Linked DNA regions of Homo sapiens. The protein of the gene in region 1 interacts with the protein of each later gene in a biochemical or structural test. Each region holds a gene or a part of one and is shown in the gene's direction. Other genes may lie near its edges.

Region 1 (7,030 bases):
TAGAAGTATTTATAGAGCATCAGTGGAGTGTATATACAATTTTAGATGTTTTAATTGATGATTTAGTCTGGCCAGGATATTTGAGTTACCAGAGCTTGGAACCCCTAGCTTCTATATTATCATTTATTATTTTGTAGTTTTTTCCATTTCTGCAAAATTAAATTTTTTTCATGGTGGCTTTCCATCTTTCTTGCTTTTTCTAACATCTTTTTTCCAATGGAAGGGCTCTTTTCTTTGTCTGAATTAGACCTGTTATTTAAATTCATCATCAGCGCCTCCCCTAATCTGTACTTTCCCCCAGCACGTTTCAGATGCTTTTTCCTTTCTGAGCTACCTTTACATTTTAACTACAGTGTGCATATATCTTATTCCTTCTAGACTCTTAAAGTGTCTTTAGGGCAGGGTTCATAATGTATTTTAATCTTTGTTTTTCCACAGTAGTAGATGCCCAGTAAATACTTGTGAAATGAATTAATTATAGTTTTATTTGAAAGAAATCACAGATCTGTAATTATAGCAACTTACGTTACTAGGTACTAAAACACTTTTTAAAGACTAGAAACTGAAGTTCTCAAATGAAGTTCATTGTGTCAAGCTTTTTACTTAAGGGATTTTTTCATATTTACTAAATGCTTTGACTGCTTTCTTGTTTTTTTTTTTCTTATTGAATTTAAGTATCTTTTAAATGTGTGAGAGTTATGTGATTGATTGTATAGTATCTAGCTTTTCATACTCTTAGTTAAGAGTAACTTTGGACTGATATTAAGATGTTCTTCAGGCCGGGGGCTCACGCCTATAATCCCAGCACTTTGGGAGGCCAAGGCAGATGGAGCACTTGAGGTCAGGAGTTTGAGACCAGCCTGGCCAAACTCCTTTCTGGAGTCAAGCACATTTTTATGGTGAAACCCTGTCTCTACTAAAAATACAAAAATTAGCTGGGCATGGTGGCACATGCCTATAATCTCAGCTACTCAGGAGGCTGAGGCAGGAGAATCGAGGCGGTGGTTGGCAGTGAGCAACCACTGAGTGGTTAAGATTGTGCCACTGCATTCCAGCCTGGGCGAGAGAGCGAGACTGTCTCAAAAAGAAAGATGTTCTTGAGAACCTGTCAAGTAGTAAATATTTTATCATAGGATAGTCAATTCTATAAAGTACTGGATATTTTAAATTCAGAATTTCATCCACATTAAACTTTTTCTGTTTTAGAGTCATGTACTTTTGTTTTTGTTTTTGTTTTGTTTTGTTTTGAGACAGAGTCTCGCTCTGTGGCCCAGGCTGGAGTGCAGTGGCGCAATCTTGGCTCACTGCAAGCTCCCCCTCCCGGGTTCACGCCATTCTTCTGCCTCAGCCTCCCAAGTAGCTGGGACTACAGGTGTCTGCCACCACACCGGCTAATTTTTGTATTTTTAGTGGAGATGGGGTTTCACCGTGTTAACCAGGATGGTCTCGATCTCCTGACTTCGTGATCCGCCTGCCTTGGCCTCCCAAAGTGCTGGAATTACAGGTGTGAGCCACGGCACCTGGCCCCAGAGTCGGGTACTTTTACATTTCATTTCTCTTTTTTACTTGACACTGATTTCTGGTGATTGAAGCCTCTTTAGCCTTGACACAGTTTGCTGGGTGCATATTATTATAGTACAAATCCTACTCATGCTTTTGTTTTTTAGTTTTCTCTTTTTCCCTAACCACTAGACCACCAGGGACTTCATGCTTTTGAATGTAAGCTTATGTGTGCTTAGTGTTATATCTGCCTTCTATCTAGCACCTTTTTTTTGGGTAGGGGGGTGGGGTACGAAGTCTCGCTCTGTCGCCCAGGCTGGAGTGCAGTGACGTAATCTCGGCTCACTGCAGCCTCCGCCTCCTGGGTTCAAGCAGTTCTCCTGGCTCAGTCTCCCGAGCAGCTGGGACTACAGGTGCACGCCACCACGCCAGGCTAATTTTTTTGTATTTTAGTAGAGACAGGGTTGCACTGTGATGCCCAGGCTGGTCTTGAACTCCTGAGCTCAGGCAGTCTGCCCGCCTCGGCCTCTCAAAGTGCTAGGATTATAGGCGTGAGCCACTGCGCCCAGCCCCCAACTTGTACCTTTTTTAAAGCTAGTTTCTTGAAAATTCCAAGCAAGTGTTAACTACATTTGATGATGAATCATAGAGGCATTTTCTGTTCTCAAGTTGGACCCCGAGACATGAAAGTTGCTAATGTCCAGAAAAAGCATACAGAATTAGAACATTGTTATGGGGTCTCTTTCCAGATCAAACTTTCATCAGCTGTCTCAGAAAGCAGAAGGGCTAACAATATAAACACAGCCATATTTTCTTTTAATAAAAATTGTTATTAAAGAGTGTGGACTTAAATTTAGACATAGTTTTCGTTTAGTCAAGCACATTTTATACCATGTTACTATAAATGTGTAGTCTGAAATTCCTATTTGGGTTGATGTATTCTACATTAATAACCAGGTCAATGTCATAACTGGAATGTGTTTTCTCTCTTGGCCTGTTTTGCAATAACAATGTCGGAGAGAACTGTAATAATGATTTGTGTTTTGGTCATTTCTATATCGAAGCACTCTTTTTAAGTAGGGCCTATTGAATACTACATGGCTTTTTGGAAGGTTAATTTTGTAGATTATATAGGGTTCATTTAAAAGTTAGAATCATTTAAATTATACATGCCGTAGCATTACCAAGGTATGCTTCAAAAAATTTGAATAGATGTCCATGAAAAAAATTTTGTCAGCAAAGAAGTGTGTGCAACGACCACTAACAAAGAAAAAACCTCTAGTATTTATGCAAGGTTTTGTAAGCAGGCACTGTGTTATAGTTTCAGATATTTTTAAAATGTAGATAAAAAGTAAGCTGTTTGCCAAATTTATCTGACCAGACCTTTTTTTTTCCTCTAGGGAACTTTGTTATCTATTATTTTGAGAAGCATACTTAGGGAAAAATTGTCCAAGAGGATATATAATTCTGATGCCTTTTTCTTTATTTTCCTTTATTTCATTAAAAACATTACTCTTGAATCTGATTAGGAAAGAATATTAGAATTCCTTATATACATTTGTTGATACCAAATACTGTTCCTCTTTCTTTTTATGTATTTACCTTTTATTATTAATATTACTGCTTTGTACTCTGCTTTTTGTCTGTTGTAGGTATAGTAAAGTTATGCTTATTATTTTTATACCTCAAGCAGAAGTGCCATAAACATTTTTTGTGTCAAAAGTTATTCACCATTAATTTGAAAACTTTTTTTTTTTTTTAAAGAGACAGGCTCACAATATGTTGCCCAGGCTGGTCTTGAACTCCTGGCCTCAAACAATCCTCCTGTCAGCTTCCCAAAGTGCTGGGATTACAGAAAAACTTTTGTGGTGTTAGATTTTGAGATGCTAGCATTTGTGATAGGTTATTTGGTAGACATGTTTCATTATGACCCCTTGCTTAAAACGATGTCCTTTTGAAAAGCATAGTTCATTTATGGGAAAGAGCATGGAGAATAAATGAAGCAGTATATTACTTGGCTGACTTAAGGTAACTATAATGGAAATGGATTCATTGGATTTGTCTACAAAGAGACTTGTGTTTGATTTTTTAATGTTCCCACATCTCTTTTTATAGATTATAATAATTTAGGTCATATGAAGATAAGATTTGCTTTTGCTGTTTTAATAAAGTCTTCTCAGTAACAGAGTTAAATTTAAAACAAATTTCTGGGCCAGGCCTGGTGGCTCACGCCTGTAATCCCAGCACTTTGGTAGGCTGAGGCGGGTGGATCACCTGAGGTCAGGAGTTTGAGACCAGCCTGGCCAACATGACGAAACCCTGTCTCTGCTAAAAATACAAAAATTAGCTGGACATGGTGGCAGGTGCCTGTAATCCCAGCTACTAGGGAGGCTGAGGCAGGAGAATCACTTGAACCCACGAGGTGGAGGTTACAATGAGCCAAGATCGCACCACTGCACTCTAGCCTGGGCAATGGAGTGAGACTCCGTCTCAAAAAAAAAAAAAAATGACTTTTGTAATCTAAAACAATAATATTTTTATTTCATCTAAAACATAAGTGAATTGACTATTAGCATGAATTATTTGTCTTACAGTTAGGGAAATTCTGTTTTAGGAAGGTACAACTATGTTTTAAATTTCAAGGTAAGATTATATCATAAAATTAAATCAATATTAGGTGCTTGACAAATATTTGTTGGATAAATGATTGATTGATTAGAGTTAGCATTTTAATTGCCATTCCTGTTCTTTATTTTTTCCTGTCAGTTAAGTAGTTACTGAATACTTAAAAAAAAGAATTGTGAAAAAATACTGCAAGCTGTATTACACTAGTGTCCTTTAATTTTTTTGCTTTTATATTTTTATAAACGATTAAACGTAAATTAGTATTGTTTCATAAGCAAATGTGTTTATGAAAATAAACATTTCTCTAAACAATATTTTTTCCCCATAACTTTAAAGTTTTAGAAGGTTACATGTGCAAGTTGTTACATGGGTAAATTGCCTGTTGCTAAGGTTTGATGTATAACCATCACCCAGGTAGTGAGGATGGTACCTGATGGGTAGTTTCTTAACTCTCGCCCCCTCTCCCACCTTCCCCCCGTTGTTGTCCCCAGTGTTGACTGCTCCCATCTTTAGGTCCGTGCTTACTCATTGTTTAGCTCCCACTTGTAAGTGAGGAAATGCAGTATTTGGTTTTCTGTTCCTATATTAATTCGCTTAGGATAATGGCTACCAGCTGCATCTATGTTGCTGCAAAGGGCATGATTTTATTCTTTTTCATGTCGACATAGTATTCCATGGCATATATGTACTGCATTTTCTTTATCCAGTCCACTATTGATGGACACCTAGGTTGACTCCACATCTTTGCAGTTGTGAATAGTGCTCCAGTGAATATGCAAGTGCATATGGCTTTTTGATAGAATGATTTATTTTTCTTTATTTTCCCTTATTTCATTAAAAACATTATAATTGAAATGACTATTAGCATGGATTATTTTAGTCTTACAATAAATAGTCATAGTTACTGGACGCAGTGGCTCAAGCCTGTAATCCCAGCACTTTGGGAGGCTGAGGCGGGCAGATCACGAGGTGAGGAGATCAAGACCATCCTGGCCAACATGGTGAAACCCCGTCTCTACTAAAAATACAAAAATTAGCTGGGCATGGTGGCACCTGTGCCTGTAATCCCAGCTACTTGGGAAGCTGAGGCAGGAGAATCACTTGAACCAGGGAGTTGGAGGTTGCAGTGAGCCAAGATCGCGCCACTGCACTCCAGCCTGGCGACAGAGCGAGATTCCATCTAAAAAAAAAAAAAAAAAAAAAAGTCATAGTTGGGGGAGTTCTGTTTTAGGAATGTTTTAAGCTTCATGAAGGTAAGGTTATATCATAAAATCACGTCTGTAGGGCCGGGTGCGGTGGCTCATGCCTATAATCTTAGCACTTTGGGAGGCCGAGGCGGGCAGATTACAAGGTCAGGAGTTCGAGACCAGCCTGGCCAATATGGTGAAACCCCGTCTCTACTACAAATACAAAAATTAGCCGGGCGTGGTGGCGGGCACCTGTAGTCCCAGCTACTTGGGAGGCTGAGGCAGGAGAATAGCTTGAACCCAGGAGGCAGAGGTTGCAGTGAGCCGAGATCACGCCACTGCAGTCCAGCCTGGGCAACACAGTGAGACTCTGTCTCAAAAAAAAAATTAAAAAAAATAAATTAAGTCTGTATTAGCTGCATGACAAATATTTGTTGAAAAAATACAGTAGTGAGACTGCTGGGTCGAATGGTAGTTCTGTTTTAAGTTCTTTGAGAGATATCCCAACTGCTCTCTACAGTGACTGAACTAAAATTACATTCCCACCAACAGTATATAGCATTCCCTTTTCTCTATAACCTCTCTAACATCTGTTTTTTGTTTGTTTGTTTTGTCTTTTTAATAATAGTCATTCTGACTGGTGGGAGATGGTATTTCACTGTGGTTTTGACTTGCATTTGTCAGATGATTTAGTGGTGTGGAACATTTTTCCATATATTTCTTGCCTATGTATATGTATTGTTTGGAGAAGTGTCTGTTCATGTCCTTTGCCCATTTTTTAAGAGTTTTTGGTTTTTGCCTGTTGAATTAAGTTCCTTACAGATTCTGAATATTAGACCTTTGTCAGATGCATGGTTTGCAGATGTTTTCTCCCAGGTTATAAGTTGTTTGTTTACTCTGTTGATAGTTTCTTTTGCTGTGCAGAAGCTCTTTAGTATAATTAGGTCCCACTTGTCAATTTTTGTTTTTGTCACAATTGCTTTTGGGCACTTAGTCATAAATTCTTTGCCAAGGCCAATGTCCAGGATGATATCTCCTAGATTTTCTTCGAGGATTTTTTTTTTTTTTTTTTTTTTTTTTGAGTAGGAGTCTGGCCCTGTCACCCAGGCTGGAGTGAGTGCAATGGTGCGATTGGCTCACTGCAACCTCTGCCTCCCGGATTCAAGCGATTCTCCTGCTTCAGCCTCCCAAGTAGCTGGGACTACAGATGCACACCACCACACCCAGATAATTTTTGTATTTTTAGTAGAGACAGGGTTTCACCATGTTGGCCAGGATGGTCTCGATCTCCTGACCTCGTGATCCTCCCACCTTGACCTCCCAAAGTGCTGGGATTACAGGCGTAAGCCACCATGCCCAGCCTCTTCTCGGCTTTTTATAGTTTTAGGTCTTATATTTATGTCTTTAATCCATCTTGAGTTAATTTTTGTATATGGTAAAAGGTAAGGGCCCAGTTTCATTCTTCTGCATAAGGCTATCCAGTTATCCCAGCACCATTTATTGGATAGGTAGTCCTTTCTCCATTGCTTGTTACTGTCAATTTTGTCAAAGATCAGATGGTTGTAGGTGTGTGGCTTTAGTTTTGGGTTCTCTATCCTGTTCCATTGCTCCATGTCTGTAATAGGCTGTTTTGGTTAGTGTAGCTTTGTAGTATAGTTTGAAGTGGGGTAGTGTGATTTTTCCAGCTTTGTTCTTTTTGCTTAGGATTGCTTTGGCTG
Region 2 (5,715 bases), on another chromosome or scaffold:
GACAGCCACCGCTTTCACACCCTGGTCTGGAATAAGGAAACATCGGAGGGAGAAGTTGACTGTCTTGATAATTAGCCTGACCAGCAGGATGAATGCAAGACTGACAGTGATGGACTCTGTGACATGGTCAGGTTGAGCTGAAGCCACAGTTTCTCTGTGCTGTGTTTTCTAACACATTTTTCTGTTTTTAATTAAAAAAAAAAAAAAAAGGTTTTCAGTTGCTTTTGTCTCCCTAGGAGGCAGGTAAACCAATCAAAAACAGAGTTTTCTGTGTTTCCATGATAGTGTTGAAGCCTAATGACAAGCCAGGTCTTACAGCTGGGCTCTTCAGAAAACCAGGTTTCTACATCCAAAGACTGCTTTTCTTTTAGCTGCCAGATTGGATTGTGAATAAAAATAATTCTTCCCTCTCCCTCTCCCTCTCCCCACGGTCTCCCTCTTTCCACGGTCTCCCTCTGATGCCGAGCCGAAGCTGGACTGTACTGCTGCCATCTCGGCTCACTGCAACCTCCCTGCCTGATTCTCCTGCCTCAGCCTGCCGAGTGCCTGCAATTGCAGGCGAGCGCCGCCACGCCTGACTGCCTCGGCCTCCCGAGGTGCCGGGATTGCAGACGGAGTCTCGTTCACTCAGTGCTCAATGGTGCCCAGGCTGGAGTGCAGTGGCGTGATCTCGGCTCACTACAACCTCCACCTCCCAGCCACCTGCCTTGGCCTCCCAAAGTGCCGAGATTGCAGCCTCTGCCCGGCCGCCACCCCGTCTGGAAAGTGAGGAGCGCCTCTGCCCGGCCGCCATCCCATCTAGGAAGTGAGGAGCGCCTCTTCCCAGCCGCCATCCCATCTAGGAAGTGAGGAGCGTCTCTGCCCGGCCGCCCATCGTCTGAGATGTGGGGAGCGCCTCTGCCCCGCCGCCCCGTCTGGGATGTGAGGAGCTCCTCTGCCCGGCCGCGACCCCGTCTGGGAGGTGAGGAGCGTCTCTGTCTGGCCACCCCGTCTGAGAAGTGAGGAGACCTCCGCCCGGCAGCCGCCCTGTCTGAGAAGTGAGGAGCCCCTCCGCCCGGCAGCCACCCCATCTGGGAAGTGAGGAGCGTCTACGCCCGGGCAGCTGCCCCGTCCGGGAGGGAGGTGGGGGGGTCAGCCCCCCGCCCGGCCAGCCGCCCCGTCCGGGAGGGAGGTGGGGGGGATCAGCCCCCCGCCCGGCCAGCCGCCCCGTCCGGGAGGGAGGTGGGGGGCGCCTCTGCCCGGCCGCCCCTGCCCGGCCGCCCCTACTGGGAAGTGAGGAGCCCCTCTGCCTGGCCACCACCCCATCTGGGAGGTGTGCCCAGCAGCTCATTGAGAACGGGCCATGATGACAATGGCGGTTTTGTGGAATAGAAAAGGCGGAAAGGTGGGGAAAAGATTGAGAAATTGGATGGTTGCCGTGTCTGTGTAGAAAGAAGTAGACATGGGAGACTTTTCATTTTGTTCTGTACTAAGAAAAATTCTTCTGCCTTGGGATCCTGTTGATCTATGACCTTACCCCCAACCTGGTGCTCTCTGAAACATGTGCTGTGTCCACTCAGGGTTAAATGGATTAAGGGTGGTGCAAGATGTGCTTTGTTAAACAGATGCTTGAAGGCAGCATGCTCCTTAAGAGTCATCACCACTCCCTAATCTCAAGTACCCAGGGACACAAACACTGCGGAAGGCGGCAGGGTCCTCTGCCTAGGAAAACCAGAGACCTTTGTTCACTTGTTGATCTGCTGACCTTCCCTCCACTATTGTCCTATGACCCTGCCAAATCCCCCTCTGCGAGAAACACCCAAGAATGATCAATTAAAAAAAAAATAATATAATAATAATTCTTGTCCTCTTATTTTACACTCATAATGAGAAATCACAAGTTCTTTCTTGATGATCTGTGCTATAGATTTCTACTCTGTCTCCTCAACTCTGTTGATATTTGGGGAAAATTCTGTTTTTCATAGATTCTTTGAGATGCTGATGGACCAGCTTCAGCATGTTTGAGGTTGTCTGAAATGGAGATCACTGTAAAACTGTCTTTTTCTTTTAAATTACAAGTACACTGGGGTTAACTGTATTGCTGGAAAAACATCAAGAATGACAGTCTTATATTTAAGGCACCAGTCATTGTTTCCATTTTTTTTTTAATTCTTCCCTTGGATTAATATTTTCTACTGAAAAGAAATGAAATCTCAGTTCCACTATGATAAAAGAAACGAATCACCAGTGTCTGTCAGTGCCCCCACTGCTCCTCCTCATACCAGCATTGACACTGGTAGCTGAGGAAGGGGACTGCTCAATTTCTAATGTGATCTATTCAAGAAGCCACATATAAAAAGGCATTGAGGGCTCACTGTCCAGAGAATTGCTTTTGTAAATGCTCCACAACGTATGGGCAAAAGTTTAAGGACTACTGCCTGATGTACCAGGAATCCTGAGTTCTGTGAAAATCTGTTCATTCCAAATCTGTTAAGCATTTCCAAACATCCAGAGAATGGTTTCACTGTTGAGGGTGCATGTGGCAGAATCTGTCTCTCTCTGCACCTGTCTTCTGTTACCATCCCTGGACAGTGACAGATTTTAAGCCAGCCACCAGAATTCTTTTCGAGTTAACCATTTCTTAGTTTCTGTAAATTCATGACTTGTCTTACTGAACTACAGCCTGGTTTGTAGACTTCCAACATCTACACTGCTGCTCTTCACCATTGGAATTCACTGTGGTATTTATAGTATTGGCTTCAGTCCGAGCCACAGGCAATAAAAGGATATCAGCTGTAGTTCTCAGCTACATCATGGTGTATAGATGCTGTTATTCAGGCGAACTTGCTCATGGGTGGACTAACACCTGGTTTGGTACAGAGACTGAGAAGTTTTTCATTCTGGTGTCAAAGTTTTGTTACATTATGGGTGTGAAGGGCATTTGATATATTTTTCTTAACTATGGGGTTTATTTTTCTAAATGTGGGTTGATTGACTGTTAATTGATTCAGGGTACCCTTAAAAGAAAAGAAGTTTTCCCATTGTGAACCTTAAATGATCAGAGAAGTAAGTTCATTGATTAAATTCTCTGTTGGGAGAACAAAACTTTTCTCCCTTGACACTTTATTATCTTTGATTTTTCAAAGGGCCTTGATTGGTGGTTGTGTCTCGGTTAAAATTTATGGGACTTTGCTATGTAGTTGGCATTTATAAAATCTGAAGTATCATAAATAAAGTTATTTATTTAATTATACTACCAGTCTTTTTTACTGGTCTGATTCTTTTGTGCATTCATTAAAGCTGATTGTGTGAGAGTGAACTGGGACACAAGCTAGTCTAGCTCACTGCAGCCAAGCAAACCCTGTTGATGGCTGATGGGCCTTTCCATTAGGGTTTTGCTTATGTGAAGTAATGGAATTATGTTGGTTATTTTCTTTATGAAAATAAACCAGTTCTTCCAAGGAAGTTAAAAGGCTTGGTATGGATGTTGGTGTCAGATAGGTCTGACTAACCTCTCCGTGCTGCAGCCTATACTAAGGTGACCCAGGGCCACATGTAGACAGCTAGGCCAGTGCTTTTTCCTCTTAGGGTTTCTTTGCAGAAAGAAACCTCCAGCAAGGGAAGAGAGGTGTGTGTCCACAGGAAGGGGCTCCGTGGGGATCCCATGAAGGGATTTGAGCTCTTTCAGCTCCATGTCATTTAACTTTTTTGTTTAACCACCTTGGCTTTCTCTCCTTTTTTGCTGTCCTCCTTACGGACCAGTTACCAGATTCAGAGGCTAACAGTTAGTTACTTGTTAATGCTAGTCACAGCCAGGAGGTCAGAAGGAATTTTCTACTTCTGGATCCAAATGTTACCTCTTAGGGGAAGTTATGCCCCCTCAACTATTGTCTTATTATAATGAATCTTTCCTTTTTGGTCCTTTTAAGTAACCACTCAAAACTTTTCATTTCACTGAAAAAATATGAAAAACCATGACAATAGGGCTGGGTGCAGTGGCTCACGCCTGTAATCTTAGCACTTTGGGAGACCAAGGCAGGCGGATCGTTTGAGGCCAGGAGTTTGAGACCAGCCTGGGCAATGTAGCAAGACTCTGTCTCTGCAAAAAAAATTAAAAGATACCTGAGAGCTCACTTTAATATCAAGGTATTTGCATCCATTCCCACCCTGTTAGCTCTTAAGGGAGGAGGGAAATCAATTCCAACCATACTTTCCTGTGATGGAAGATGTTTCCTCTTGAAAAAATGCCAATACAGATTTTTAAAACCTATTGTTTTCCAAATGCACTTTGTAAGTTTTTGCTTTTAAAATAGCTTCTTGGAACCAATTTTATTGTATTTGTACTTAATTTTTGTTCTCATCTAAATGTGCATTTTCTGACTGTATAGAAGAAGCTTTGGTATGTAATTTAATAATAAATTAGAAATCTAAATGATTGCATTTGTAATTGTTTATATTGAAACAGTAACCATCAAGGTAGTTTGGGGATAGAGATTATGGTATCTCTGGTGTTGATAAGTGTTTCTCATGATGTCCTGAAACCCAGGATGAAATAATACAGGTGCTGAAAAGCTGTCACATGTCATTCAGAAACCATCATATGAACAGTCCACTAGTATTTTAGCCCTAGAAGTGAAGGGGAATCTCTTAACATGAAACTTCAGGAGGCATAATGGGAATCTACAATTGTAGAATTGGCTGGGTGCAGTGGCTAACACCTGTAATCCCAGCAGTTCGAGAGGCCGAGGCAGGAGGATTGCTTGAGACCAGGGATTTGAGACCAGTCTGGGCAACACAGCAAAGACCTTGTCTCTACAAAAACTAAAATTAGCCATTCATGATGGTGTGCACCTATAGTCCCAGCTACTCGGAAGGCTGAGGTAGGAGGATCATGAGCCCAGGAGGTCAAGGCTGCAGTAAGCAACGATTGTGCCACTGTACTCCAGCCTGGGTGACAGAGACCCTGTCTCAAAAATAAATTAATTTTTTAAAAATCGTGTACTGCTGGGCTTTAGTACATTAGTTGTGCAACCAGCCCCACTGTCTAATTTTAGAGCTTTGCAATTAATCCAGCCAGTGATCAATTCCTCTTCTATAAAATGGTGATAAGGATGGCTACCATAATTGTGCCCTGATTATATTGTCAGGGTTATGTGAGGAAATGCTCATAAGCATCTCAGCAAAGCCAGGGGTACAGGGCTCACCTGACATAAGAGATATCCTTGGGTTTGTCCTAATAGCGAGAAACCGGGCCTCTTTTGCCTCTTTTTTTCCCTCTTGCTGATGTGGGAGAGGAGAGAACATTCAAGAGGTGATCAGCAGACATCCTTAATTTTGATAAAGGCAGCTGAGCGGGGAAATATAAGGTCGGTTCTGTGTAGATAGACAGGTGGAACCCAGCAATCAGTTTAACCAGCCTCCAAGCGGTTCTGATGCATGCCAGAGGTGGAGAACCACGCTCTATAAGTACACACATTCTATTTAGTCATTCCATTCTAGACCGATAGCTTTTATTTTTAGTTTGGAACTATTACAAATTGTGCTGCTCTGGACATTCTCGAACATGGGTTTTGGGACACACATGTACACTTTTCTGTTGCTTATACCTAGGAATAAGATTGTTGGATTATAGGTGATGCACATACTCAGTTTTAAGATATGTTGTCAGACATTTTTCCAAAGCAATTGTGCCAATGCCCGTGCCTACCAGTAATGTGTGAATATTCCATTTCCTTC
Region 3 (6,840 bases), on another chromosome or scaffold:
TAAGTCACACACACATACTTTGTTGGGGTGGGGGTGGCAGGTGGAGAGGCAGTGTACTTGGGTTAGCTACAATTAAAAACAGTATTTCAATTCCTCATTTGACTTATTTTATATATAGACAGGGCCTTAGTGATAAGATGGTGTAAATAATTTAGGATATTCATGTTTTAAAGTGAAGCATAAATATTTATTTTGCAAAATGTTTTCTAGTTTGAAGGATGTTCCATTATTACCATTTTTAGATTAATCTGTATGGTCAAGGAATATCAGAGAAACCTGTAGGTTATTTATTTTCTGCAGTGTCATTTTGTCAAATGGTTGGTATTATAATTGTTCTTTTCTTATTAATTTTATAACCAGTGCATAATTCTTACATTAGATTTTAAAAAAGAATTATGCTATAAATCTTTATAAATGTGTACATATATTTCTTAAATATTGCAATTGCCTAAATGTTGTATATTTTAAGGCTGTTTTCTCTTGCTCTTAATGTTGAGGAAAACTATAAATTGATCTATAATGCATCTACTGTTAATGGTTTTGGTTAGTTTGATATTCATTGTTTTTAAACACTTTCCAATATGGAAACTTTAACACCTTTTATACAATTCTCTACTATTCAAGATATTCTTTAAAATATCTCACCAGAAACTTACAATTTTATACTTTGTAATTTTTAGTTTCTGTAATTTGAGGAAGTGACTTTTTTTGTTTGGGTTAAGTAAAAAGCCTTTGATTGATTACCAGCATGAGAATTCACCTTGGTTTCTATTTTATGCATTTGTAAATTTTTCCCCTAATTATATGGAAGCTATTGGAACTTTTGTATTCAGTGCTAAATACTAAGTCAAGGGGAGTATATTAGGTAAGTTTTTTCAGTGACTGTGCCTTTAGCATTCAGTCATTATAAGAAAATGATCAGAACAAAATCATTACATTATAAACATGTAATTCTTTTATATAGTGATTATCATGTACTGCATTGTTACTTTAAAATAAGCTATTAAACTAGTTTTTATGGTTCAAGTAATGCAATACAAAGTTTCATGCTTCAAGTAATGCAATACAAAACATAACCCATTTAATGATGAATTACTTGAATGTATATTATCTGTGGTTTAGGAAAATTTGGATTGTCTTGAAGAGACTCAGTTTTCAAGTTCTGATTTTGACCATTATCTCTTCTAATTCATAAACATATCCCAGTACCTACACTATGCCAGGTATTATGCTAGGTGATCGTTTATATGTCAGCCTATTTCCCCCCCTTTTAAAGACTGCCAGATTAACCAAAAAGCGTGACATTTATAACAATGTTTTATAAATAAATAAATGTGTTTATGCCACTAAAGGTAAACTGCCTATTTAAACTAAGTAATTTTTTGGGATTTAATAAGATTAAGATTCTGACGAAACTGAAAGATACAAGATTCCTTTACTCTCCACATTTGAGAGATCCTATAAGCAAGCAGTTAGTGTCTGACACCCAGGAACCTATAGAAATGAGGGAATCTGTGTTAAAACTATGTATCCTCTAATGTAAAATAGCTTACCAGAATAAATTATTTAAGCCAAAAATCTGGACTCAGATAAATGGCTATAGTAAATTAGGTTAATGAACAATCTGTAGCCATAGATTATTTTCAGTCTTTCTGATTCTAATAAAACAAATACCTTATTCAGTCTCAGCCTTACAAGGGCTATTTGTCTATGGTTGCTGTTCTTCTGTGAGGTGTATTTTTCTATAAATTTATTGCCCACATTCTGTGCACTTGGTCAGGAGTTTTTATCATTTCATATATATGCAGTGTACATCAATTTTAAAATTGTCTTCGTGGTTTTAACATGACTCATAGTCTTGGGAGAGAATCTGTGATGGAACTGAAGTGGCTCAATGATGGATTTGCATTTGAAAGTGGAAGTACCCAAATGAGCAAAATTGGGCTCTCAGACATTTTATATTTCATAGAGACTGTAGAATGCAGTAGAACTTTCCCATAGGGCAGAAATAATTTGTTTAGTTGGAACACACCTAGATCATTGAAGATTCCTTCAAAATATTAGTAATAGTACTGAAGACACACATGTATTCCAGTTAATTTCTTAATGAATGTGCCAATTAGCTATAAAAATGAGATTACATAATTTTTTTTTCTTTTTTGAGACAGAATCTCACTCAGTCACCCAGGCTGGAGTGCAGTGGCGCGATCTCTGCTCACTGCATCCTCCGCCTCCCAGGTTCAAGCAGTTCTTCCTGCCTCAGCCTCCCCAGTAGCTGGGATTAAAGGCGCCCACCACCACACCCGGCTAATTTTGTATTTTTAGTAGAGACCGGGTTTCACCATGTTGGCCAGGCTGGTCTCGAACTACTGACGTCAGGTGATCTGCCCACCTCTACCTCCCAAAGTGCTGGGATTACAGGCGTGAGCCACCGCACCCGGCAGAGATTATGTAATAAGATAACCTGTTTTAAATGTCACAAAAATAAATTTTTATTAATGAAAAAAGCCAGTGTTTCACACTATAAAACAATATATAATCGTTAGGCTAACCATTTCATTTATATAATTGTGAAAGTTAAGCTTTTGAGGTACAGAGTGATTTCATTTCAGAATTTGGTGCAACTTCATAATGAAGCGTCATCAATGAACTCGGGAAATGAGGTGTCATTGTGTATCCATTTTGGTCATACAGTAAAATCTATGGATTAAGTTAGAAATCATCTATCCCATATATTTTGCGGTCACGTGGCTTCAAGTGTACATTAAACCGCCAGCACAAGACCAGCCTGGCCAACATGGTGAATCCCCGTCTCTACAAAAAAAAAAAAAAAAAATTTAGCCGGGCGTGGTGACCCCTGCCTATAGTCCCAACTAGTGGGCAGTCTGAGGTGGAAGGATAGTTTGGGAGGATCGCTTGAGTCCGGGAGGTCGAGACTACAGTGAGCCGAGATTCTGCCACTGCACTCCAGCCTGAGCGACAGACAGTGAGATACTATCTCAAAAACAAAACAACAACAAAAACCAGCACATCAGCCTGGCCTGATGGTGTGCCCCTGTAGTCCCTAGCTACTTGGGAGACTGAAGCAGGAGGATCGTTTGACCGTCAGAATTTGAGGCTGCAGTGATCCCTGATTGCGCGCTCCAGCCTAGGCAACACACCCCACTACTGCTTGACTTCCTTCCCACGGCAAGGTGATTTTGCAATTACTACAAGGAAAGAGGAGAAATGCTAATTTCTCATTTTGTACCTCCCTGGATCCCGTGTCCATGCCGGCAGAACGCCACCATAAAGCTACACCTTTTTTTTTAAAGAGATGCGACTGAGAAATATGCCAGATCAGAGTAATGCTCCAATGCTTTCCGTTTCTCTGGAGAAAGGAGCAAAGGGAAGACTCCTGCTGCACTGAGAAACGAGAGCTAACGTTAAAATGTTGCCTGTGTTTCAGGAGCTTCATTTACTTCAGTCCTGTGGTCCTTATACTCCTAGAGCATTATCACCCTTTAAGTGCTCTGTAAGTCACCAAACCAACAGTTCAGTAATTAGGTTCTTAGCACTACACGCTCCTACCCTAACAGCTCAATTTAATGTTGCTACCATTTGAGAGAGTGTGGCTTGATTCGGTAGGATAAAAACTCTTAGTATTCGCCTAACATTACGGGCCACTGAATTAACCTGCACCGGGTCTCCCAGTTCTACCGAGAGTGGAGGTCTTCCTGGAGGAGGTGGGGTCCGGAACTCAGGCACACCCTTTGGCCCCGCCCTTCCGGGCTTTGCTTCCGGGGCGGTAAGGGCAGCCACGTCATCCCCCCGCTCCGCTCCCCAGCCGGGCAGTGGCTCGTGGGAGCCAAGATGGCGGCGGCGGCGGCAGCGACAGCAGCAGCAGCAGCCAGTATTCGGGAAAGGCAGACAGGTACTGACTTATTCTCTTCTCCTTGAAGCTTCGTGACTGCCCCGACGACATCCTTCTCCTCTGGTGCGTGCAGCTCAGAGACCGATCTCCAGGAGTTTAATCCAGTCCCTAGAACATCAAGAGCCCCTCCCCTTTGAGTTTTTGGGGAGAAGTTGCCATTAGCTTGAGGACTCGGTTCCTCCTGTGGTGCAGGAGAAGGAGCTTCAGCGGTGGGCGGATTGCTACGGCCCTGCTCTTGTCTCCTTCCTAGTGGGCATCAGAAGGCCATCACAACAAGATCTAGCAGCTGATAGCTTCTTATCTATGTTGCCACCTATGAGGTCTCCGAGTTTCTGTGCGTGGTTCAGTTCTCCTGGTTTTGATTTTTAAGAGAACTCCCATTTTCTGACACTCAGAGAATTTAGGTATTTTCACAGCGGCTTGCTTTGCGCCACTTCTCTACTTCGGACCAGTCTTTTGGGGGTACCTGCAGAAAAATGCCTGGTGATAAACATTTTCTCCTTCAGCTTGCTGGAAGGCATTGAAGAATGGCAAAACAAATGAATTAATAGCTTTCTCATTTTAATTGTTTGACACATTGTTTTAAAATAATATTTTATCTTCAATAGAGCATGTTTATATAGCTTCTATTTATGCAGAGAAATGTAAAAAGGCACATATTCTTCTCTTGAGTTTTGGGTTTTTTTCCGTCTTAGAAATTAGTTTTGCCTTACTTGAAAACTTCTCATGACAACTTGGTTTATACCTGTTAGCTACAAACTAAAGGTTTATACTTGTTAACTAGTTGTCTTAAAAGTTTTCAAGCAATTTATTCTGAGGAGCTAATAGAAATAAGGCATCAAGAATGTGCATACTTGGAATTCTGTTTCCTGAAATTATGCTCTGTTGGATATAAATATGAATAGGAAAATAAATTTATAATTCATATGACCTACAGAAGGGATTTGGGCTGTACTTGATTCCTTCCTTTGGCATTTAAAGAAAAAGTGATAGACTTCAATTTAGTAATGACACACAAAAGATACTGAGTTGCGTTCTGCTTTTCCCAGTAAATAATTTAGTATAACCTATCAGGTGAAGTCAGGCATAACTAAATATAGGGAAGTTCAAATAAGATTTGGGGCATACCTGCCATTCGTTGTATATGTTTAAACAAATGGAAGCTCCATTTGTTTTAATACTGTGTTTCTGATGACTATACTACATATTAAAATAACGTGTCAGTAAAACTGTACCAATACAAGAGAGCTTTTTGAAAAATAAATTTGCGTGGCCGTAAACTTGTATGCAGAAATTTTGTAGATCATTAAAATCTAATCGTTTGTATTTCTGCAGAAATAAACATAGTAAGATTTTACAGAATTACTAGGTAGTGCTAGATCTATTTTTTATCAAATTTTTACTGTCATTGAATTCTGCCTTATTTTCAGAGGAAGGTAAATCCTTGTATATATATTATAATGCAGAATTAGCTATTTCCCTCATGCCTATGGAGAATGTTTTGGGAGATAACTCACAGTCCTTAAATATTCTAGATACTAGAATATTTGGGTGGATGAGATAATAGTTGGCATTTATTGAGCATTTACTATTGTTAGGCATTGCATTAGGTGATTATGTATTATCTCCATTTTACAGGTGAGGAAAGTAAGATAGAGGTAAACTAACGTGCCTGTTTCTTGCTTTGCCTGCCTGAAAAATCTTTATTGGTCTCCTGAAAAATCTTTATTGATCTTTTGAAGGTCATCCCACAAGCCATCTCCTTTCTTCCTGGTTCACTGTCCCCTCTATCCATACCTTCAGTTCAATAGGTAGAATCAGTTGCCTCCTGCTCCGTGTTACTGTTGTTCTTCATTGAATGCGTCTTCGTTACAGGTTCTTGCACATCTTCCCAGCTTCTCAACATTGCAGGGTCCCATTAGTGTTCTCATCTAGCGCCTTAGCTTTCAGTATTATCTGTATGTTGATGATTCCCAGGTTTATATCCCTAGTCTGGCCGTCCCATCTGAACTCAGTCTACTCCATATCAGTTAATGGCAGTTCCGTCCTTTTAGTTGTTCAGGTCAAAAACCTTGAAGTTTTCTTGACTTGTCTCTTTCATGTCTCATGTAAGATCTTTCAGTAAATCTTGTCAGTTCTACTCTGAAAATACATCCAGGATCTGACTGTTGTCATTGCTATTCCGAGGTCCTGTCCACCATGAATTTCTGCAGTAACCTATTTGGTCTCTTTGCTTTTACAATCCTGTTCTCCTTCATTATTTTTCACACAGTACCCAAACTGATCATGCCATATGTTTGCTCAAAATCTTCCAGCATCTTCCCATTTCAACCATGATAAAAGCCAAAGTGATCTTACAGTGTTCTACAAGGCTTTATACGATCTGGTTTCCATGTAGCTTTTGGACCTCACTCCCTATTTCTCTTCCCTCTCCTTGAACCCACCAGGAATGCTCCCACCTTCGAGCCTTTGTATTTGTTTCTTCTTTGTGGAGTACTGTTTCAGAGATAATCTCCATGGCTCACTCCCTCACTTCCTTTAGGTCTTTACTCAAATGTTACCTTCTCAGGAGGCTTTCCCCAATTATTCTGTTTAAAATTACACCTCAACTCCATCTTCCCCTTTCCCAATCTTACCTTTCTTCAAAGCACTTACCATGATCTACATACCATATGTTTTACTTTTTTTTTATTTTATTTTTTTTATCCCCCAATTAGAATGAAAGCTACTTGAGGACAGGCGATTTTATTCACTGTTTTGTTCAGTTGCTAGATCCCCAATAACTACAGTGCCTGTGGTGAGCACTCATCAAACGTGTTGAATGAATGAATAGTGTGTATGTAAGTAATGACATTAACCAAGTCTAGGAATATGGATACAGGTTGAGTATCCCTTATCCAAAATGCTTGCGACCAGGAGTGTTTTTG
Region 4 (7,883 bases), on another chromosome or scaffold:
CTGCCTCGGCCTCCTAAAGTGCTGGGATTACAGGCATGAGCTATCGTGCCCGGCTGCATTTTTTTGTGTGCTTATTTGCCATCTGTGTATCTTCTTTGGTGAGGTGTCTGTTCAGATCTTTTGCCCACTTGTGAATTTTTTTAATTAAAATTTTTGCATTATAAGAGTTCCTTGTGTATTTTAGGTAACAGTCCTTTATCAAATAGGTATTCTACAAATATTTTCTCCCAGTCTGTGCCTTGTTTTTTTAATCTTCTTAACGGTGCCTTTTGCAGAGCAGAAGTTTTTCATTTTAATCAAGTCCAACTTATTGTGTTCTCCCCCCCGCATTGGCTCATGCTTTTGGTGTTGTATCTGAAAAGTCATCACCAAACTCAAAGTCACCTAGAGTCTCAAATTATCCTATAGATGTTTTATATTTTTACATTTTATATTTACATCTTAAGATCCACTTTGAGTTAATTTGTATAAAAGGTATAAGGTGTGTGTCATTTTTTGCATGTGGATTTCCAGTTGTTCTAGCACCATGTATTGAAAAGACTCTTTTCTCCATTGAATTGCCTTTGCTCCATTCTCAAAGATCAGTTGTCTACATTTATGTGGATCTATTTTGGGGCTGTCCATTCTGTTCCATTGGTCTATTTGTCTATTCTTTAGCCAATACCATGCTGTCTTGTTTACTGTAGCTGTGTAGTAAGTCTTGAAGTTGGGTAACGTCAGTCCTCCAACTTTGTTCTTCTTGAATAGTCTGTGGATTATTCTGGGTCTTTTACTTTTTCATATAAAATTCAGAATTAATTTGTTGATATCCACAAAATAATGTGCTAAGATTTTGATTGAGATCTTATTGAATCTACAGATAAAGTTGGGAAGAATTGACATCGTAACAATACTGATGCTTTCTGGGAATATGGAATATTTCTCAATTTATTTAGATTTTAATTTTTTTAATCAGAGGTTTGCTAGTTTCCTTCACATAGAGCCTGTACATATTTTGTTAGATTTATGCCTAAGTATTTATTTCGTCTTTTTTTTTTGAGGCTAATGTAAATGGTATTGTGTTTTTAATTTCAAATTCCAATTGTTCTTTGCTGAGGAAAGCAATTGACCTTTTACCCTGTAGCCTCGTTAAAATTGCTTATTAATTCCAGGAGGTTTTTGTTTATTCTTAGATATTTTTTACATAAAAAATCATGCCATCTACAAAGACAGTTTTATTTATTACTTGCTAGTATGAATATCTTTTATTTCCCTTTATTGTCTTACATTAGGCAGGAGGTTTAGTATAATGTCACCTAGGAGTAGTGACAGGGGACATCCTTACCTTGTTCCTGATCTTAGAGGGAAAGCATCCAGTTTCTCACCATTAAGAATCTGCAATATTTTTCTATCAAGTTGAGTAAATATCCTTCGATTCCTAGTTTTCTGAGTTTTTTTTTTTAATCATGAATGGGTGTTGATTTTTCTTCTTCCCCCACCTTCCCTCTTCTTCTTTCCCCACCTTCTTTCCTCAGCTTCTTTTCCCTATCCCCACCTTCCCTCTCTTCTTCCCCCACCTTCCCTCTTCTTCTTCCCCTGCCATCCCTCTTCTTCTTTCCCCTTTCCCTACCATCCCTCTTCTTTCCCCTTTCCCCACCATCCCTCTTTTTCTTTCCCCACCTTCCGTCTTCCTTTCCCCTTTCTTTCCTCTCCTTCCTTCTTCTTTTTCCCCCCTCATCTCCCTTCCTCTTTCCCCACCATCCCTCTTCTTCTTTCCCCACCTTCCCTCTTCTTGTGAAAATATTTTTCTTCATTGGTTGATGTGATCATGTGATTGTATATTTTTGCATATAATTGATATGTCTCAAAGTTATATTTTTCAAGACAATTTCTTATTTCTCCAAGATTTTAAGATTTATTCATATAGAATTCTATGTTGGATATTTTATTTAACAAATATTTATTGAGTATATACTATGCTGAAGATACGTTAGGTATGGAAGATACATTAATAAATAAGGCTGCATGAAAGTTTTGGAATAAGTTTGCATTTGGTATAGAGGAAGGTAAGATGATGATGAGGAAAGAACTGAAAAAGGGGAGAGGGAATTGGGCAACAGTAAATCACAGAGAATGTGACATTTCTTGTCTTTCAACTTTTCCTCCCTGTACTTTCAATTAGGGAAATGATCACTCTCTAAGGGACACCTGAATGACTCCACACTTCTGTGATTTCTGCAGTCTCTAACTGCTCTGGAGCTTAGAGTCATATCCAAACCCCTTAGCATAAAATGGCACAATTTTATGACCTACTCTTTGCCTAACCATTCAGTCATATCACTTATGTCAAATTGCCCAAATGGTCCATGCACATGCTGCTCCATCTACCTCCACTATTCTGTACCCTCTTTTTTGCTGGGGCAACCCCTAATTATCTTTTATTATCTTGATCACCCTCTCAGAGCCTAAATTGCTTCCATTAAGTTGCATTCTAAATTATTTCCAGTCCTTCAGTGAACTTAGAAATAATATGTTTTGCTCTTTAACTTCTCCACCTCATTTTCTTCCTTCACACCCCTAGTGTTCACTATAATTCTCACCATACTGTGCTCACCCAATAATAGAAGGTAGAGCTATAAGAAGACCTACTAGACAGAAAAAATTCTAATCTCGTCTCCCATAAGAAACTTTCATTCTGTTAAAACTGAAAGGTAAATTCTAAGGTCGAATGTGGAAATAAGTATGTAGAAAGGTAAATTTTGTGTAAGGGAGTACAATAGGACTCTCAGTGATGGCTTCTATTTTCTCTAAGATAGAAGCAAGTTCATCTGCTAGGAGTGTGAAGTGTAGACACGGGGTTGGGACTTAAAGAGGATGTTAAAGGTTTGAATAATTGTGGCAAATAGGAGAGGAAGCTGAAGACAAGAAGGATTTGGGAGTGTGCTGAAGATGGAGTTCAGCTGGAAACTGAATGTGCAGTGGTCAGGACATTGATGTCACTGATGACATTGTCCTGATGTCTCCTGCAGCATTTTGCTCCCCAAAGGTAGAAGTAGAGACCAATGGTTGGACTGATGCAGGTTTAGGACTTTGCTGGGTGGATACAATCAGGGATATAAGAATATGATGTATTCATTAAGTACTGCAGCATTCAAATTCTGTCTCTGCCCCTCACCATGTGACCTTGTGCAAATTATTTAACCTTCTGAAGTCTTATTGTCTCACATTTAAGATAAGGATAATCATATATACTTTATTAATTTAACAGATATTGAGTGCCCTCCTCTATACTTTTCTGGGACCTGGAGATAAAGCTGAGATCAAAATTACTACCTTCCTGGAGCTTATAATCTAATGAGAAGAGAGATACCAGATAAATGAAATATATAGTACTTTAGATGGCAAAATGCTTAGGGGAAAAAGAAGCAAAGAAGAAGTATATAGTGCATGCAGGAAATTGCAATTTTATTTATGTTTGTATTGATACATATTTGTACATATTTATGGGGTGTGGTAGTTTGATATATGCATACAATGTGTAATGATCAAATCAGGGTGTTTAGGATATCTATCACCTCAAACATTTATCATTTTTGTGTTTGGAACATTTCTAATCTCCTAGTTATTTTGAAATATATAACATATTGTTAACTATAGTCACCCTACTGTGCTATCAAACACTTGAACTTATTCCTTCTATCTACGTTTGTACCCATTAACCAATCTCTTCCCTCCCTCCCCCAACTCCACCTTCCCAGCCTCTGGTACTTATCTCTACTCCATGAGATCAACTTTTTAAGCTCCCACATGAGTGAGACCATGGGATATTTGTCTTTCTGTGCCAGACTTATTTCACTTAGAATAATGACCTCCAGTTCCGTAAGATGGGCAGCCAGGAAAGGCCTTACTTAGCTGATGTTTGAATTGTGAAGTTATGTAATCATTAAGATGAGTATACATACAATGGGCCAGCTGAGTGCACAGCAAGATTCAATAAATTCAAACTAACATTACTCTTATTGCCAAGAGAGTGCCTGAAATGACAGCTCATTGGAAACTGGCTACTTTCCTTCCCTTTCCTTAGGGGTTTAAGGAAAGCATGAGTGATTTCAGTCTTTTGCTGGAGCTCCTCACTGACACTCATTGCAGAGCCTGAGCCCTCAACTCTCAATCTTTGCTTAGGTCCTGGCTTAGGCTCCACTTTGTAAGAGGCACCTTCCTAGTATTCACTACTCTCTCTCTCACAATCATGTCCTTACAGACATTGCTGATCCTCTTTCATACTGACACCGGGTTCTAGTCCGAGTTCCATCACTAAGTCGCTGTTTGACTTTGGGCAAGTTACTTCTGTGGTTAATTATTTTTCATCAACAAAATCAAAAGGTGAAACTAGACGAACAACTAAGAGGCTCCAGTATTTTTTCAATCTAAGAGTCCCATATCCCCCACTCCCTTCTCACAGCTCATTCAACAATCCTAATGGCAGCGGGTGCCCGCAGTCTCAAGTCTCTGCCGAAGCCCAAGCCGCTGTCTCGGTCAGTCACAACCGACGAAGAGGAGGAATTGGAGGAAGCCAGCATAACCACTTCACACTGAGAACATCTGACCTTTCCCAGAACGCCCGCCCACTCGACACTTCCTGTCCCTCCCCAGATCTTGTTCCGGGGCACCTACTCGCGTCTAATCACTCCCCTCATTCACTCTTTAGGGTCCATTGGCTGTTTCTTTGAGGAAGCGGAGCATCTTCTGTCGTTGATTGGTTTCCGTCATTGTTGATAGGTTGGTAACAAACAAGGTGTGCCTGGTCTCCCTGGTAACGTCCTGCCGATAGTCCTGATTGGTCGGTGTCTTAATCCCATCTTCCGTCCCAACTGCTAGTGGCTGAGTCCCTGGCGGGGCGCGGCGGTGGAAGGTGTCGCGTACGGGCTTCCCGAGCTGACGTGGCTTGAATTGGGAGGGGGGCAGCTGGAGCCTCAGGCGGCAGCGCTTCTAGGTGAGTAGGGGACGCTACCCAACTCTTCCCTCTGCGAGTCCAATAACGGTCACCCCCGCCAGAGGGGCCGCGGGAGCTGCCCAAGCAGCTACACCGGAGTCCCCTCCTCGCCCCGCCTCTCCCGGATTCAGTCCTGGATCCGGCCCTTCACCCGCCTCCTTCACCTACCAGGCCTAGTTCTAGTAGCCCACAAGCCTCGGCCTCTCCGGTGGGCCTTCGGGGTCACCCTGCGCAGACTTGGACCACTTGCTCACGGTCTGTCCCCTCCCCGGTACGTTTCTCCTCTGGGAGCGACGGGGAAAAGCGCCTAGGTCAGTCCTGTCCGCACGGCCTTGTTCCTGGAGCGGCCTGCCTAAGTCGGCCTCCGTACGCAGCCGCTGACGTCGGAAAGAACCTGCTGGGCCCCTGTGCTCAGGCCCTAAACAAACTTGGTGTCCCGAAGGGGAGGCGCGACCAAAAGAAATCAAAGGTCTTTAGGGCGGAGATCACAGAATCATTGGAGATATTAATGCAAACGGAGGCCTGTCCAATAATCCTGCTAATGCTAATGGGTTACTGGAAAGATGAGAAGAGAGGAAAGATCCCAACGATCCCGTCAACACGAAAATCCCAGGAATCAGAGGTGGGCAGGCTGTTAGAGAAAAAGGAACCTCTAAGAGAGTTCTCGAGGAAAAATAACTTGGTTTGATGGTGTGGAGTATGTTTAATCTGCACAACCGGAATGTGAAAGGGAGGGTGAGTCCTTTGAGGAATGAGGAATATATTTGTCTGACTTATTTAAAGAGCTCCAGTTGGTCTATGGGGAGCGGACAGTTTGAGAGTGGGACAGGGATATTTACAATCATGGGTAAGTACTTTCACTTTTGGAGATAGTTGGAAGCTGTCTGAGCATTTAAAGGACCTTTTTACAGTTCTGTGCAAGATGCAAGCAAGTGGAGGGCTCTTTACATAAGGGCCAGAGGCCTTTCCAAAAGCGTGAATTGATAAGATTTAGATGGTCAGAATGGTTATGAAGGGGCAAACTCAGGAAATATCCTATTGGAAAAATGGCAGGATTTGGTTTTGGAATAGATGCAGGAAAAAGTTGAAGAGTACTCAAAAGTTGCAGGCATTGTACATTAACTGCTTCATAGCTTTTACTTCTCATCCCTTGACCACAGAATGACCATTTAATGTTTTTCTTTTCACTGCATCAATATTTTTTACTACCTCAGCAGCTTCCAAACCTTTTAATTGCACTCCCTATCAGTAAAACATTTTTGAGCATGCATCTCCCCAAATGTTGTGTGTTTAATTATTTATAGTGTATGACTACCACTGTAAATATGTTGTGTATAATATGAAATATGCAAAAGTATAAACGTAAAAGAATGAAGTTTTTAAAAAGCCTTGTCCACACCTTGGGACCTCCCAACCCAATTTGACAATCACGTAAAGATACTTCCTTGTTTTTCAAGAAGGTCGTTGGCATTTCTGGCATCCAGACTCTGGGATGCAGCCTTTCTTAAACATGATCTTTAGAAGATTTTTTTCAACCTTCTGCTTGAGTTTTATAGGCCCCCTTTCTTTTTCTCCCTTTGATTAATGGATTAATTAAAGGGATGTTGACTTTATCCTTGTTTATAAAATAAATCATTCATTAATTTCTCTAGGTTAATTACTATTAGGAATACCACTGATCATTACATACCAGTCTGTGGTTAGAAACCATTATGTAAAAGGAGACTAAGCTCTATATTGCTGTATTTTTAATTAAGCTATTTTAAAATCAGCTATATGCTTTTGATAAAAGGAAATTTAATACAGAAGGATACAATGTAAAAAAAGTCTTTTTCTTTTCTATCTACTGATCTACCCATCTCCATTCCCCACTTCCCAGAAGTAAGCACTGTAAATAATTTCTTGGTTATATTTAAGAAACTTTCTGATCATAATAAAGCACATGATAATATATACCCCCTTCTGTCTTTCCCACAAGTGGAATCCTAATACACATGCTTTTGCCATTTAGTACTGTATATTAGGCACTTTCAATATCCATGGGTATAAAACTACCTCATCCTTTCCATGGCTACACAGCAGTCCTTTGTAAAAATATAAAAATAGTATTTAGCCTGTCCCCATTGATGGACATTTAGATTTTCAGTCATTAGCCATCAAAACACTGCTGTAGTGTTTTGTTATATAACATCCATGTGTATATATGTATATATATACATATATATACGTATATATGTATATATATACGTATATAGACATATACGTATATATACGTATATACACATATATATACATATATACGTATATACACATATATACATATATACATATATACACATATATATACATATATACATATATACATATATATATACACACATGGATTTTTGTTTTGTTATGTAACATCCATACATAACATGTTTTGTTATGTAACATCCATATATATATATATATATATATATATATATATATATATATATAACATCCATGTATATATATCTTAGGGCCCTTGTGTGAACCTGTCTGTGGTATAAACAATATGGAATTATTTGGGGCCATACTAATATGAATCATTTTAGTTTACTTACTGCTTTAAAAAAAAGTACTTACCTAACTATTAACATAGTGCCTTTATCCCTTCATTCTGTTTTCAACCCGAGTAAAGAATATTGGATAATGAGATTATTCAGAAAATAAAATATTTTCTGTGTATCTTCACCCACCAAGAAGCTTTGTCGAACTATGTGACTGGGGAAATTACTTAACATCCCTCTGCCTTAGTTTACTCACCTTAAAACTGGGAATATTGACGGTACTCCCTCTTGCGGTTGTTTTAAGAATAAAGTGAGTTAGGCCGGGCGCAGTGGCTCATGCCTGTAATCCCAGCACTTTGGGAGGCCAAGGCGAGTGG

The links.
Region 2: the proteins of USO1 (region 1) and GOSR1 form a complex in vitro, tested with the Homo sapiens proteins (one study listed by BioGRID).
Region 3: the proteins of USO1 (region 1) and SCFD1 form a complex in vitro, tested with the Homo sapiens proteins (one study listed by BioGRID).
Region 4: the proteins of USO1 (region 1) and GOLGB1 form a complex in vitro, tested with the Homo sapiens proteins (one study listed by BioGRID).

The regions. Positions count from the first base shown.
Region 1 is NC_000004.12:75,727,570-75,734,599, forward strand, and holds part of USO1 (general vesicular transport factor p115), read left to right. Parts: intron 1-7,030. UniProt on the Homo sapiens protein: General vesicular transport factor required for intercisternal transport in the Golgi stack; it is required for transcytotic fusion and/or subsequent binding of the vesicles to the target membrane.
Region 2 is NC_000017.11:30,522,401-30,528,115, forward strand, and holds the end of GOSR1 (Golgi SNAP receptor complex member 1), read left to right. Parts: 3' UTR 1-5,192; downstream 5,193-5,715. UniProt on the Homo sapiens protein: Involved in transport from the ER to the Golgi apparatus as well as in intra-Golgi transport. It belongs to a super-family of proteins called t-SNAREs or soluble NSF (N-ethylmaleimide-sensitive factor) attachment protein receptor.
Region 3 is NC_000014.9:30,618,487-30,625,326, forward strand, and holds the start of SCFD1 (sec1 family domain-containing protein 1), read left to right. Parts: upstream 1-3,832; 5' UTR 3,833-3,852; coding exon 3,853-3,913; exon of another isoform or gene 3,914-3,976; intron 3,977-6,840. UniProt on the Homo sapiens protein: Plays a role in SNARE-pin assembly and Golgi-to-ER retrograde transport via its interaction with COG4. Involved in vesicular transport between the endoplasmic reticulum and the Golgi.
Region 4 is NC_000003.12:121,746,721-121,754,603, reverse strand, and holds the start of GOLGB1 (golgin subfamily B member 1), read left to right. Parts: upstream 1-4,862; 5' UTR 4,863-4,972; exon of another isoform or gene 4,973-5,594; intron 5,595-7,883. UniProt on the Homo sapiens protein: May participate in forming intercisternal cross-bridges of the Golgi complex.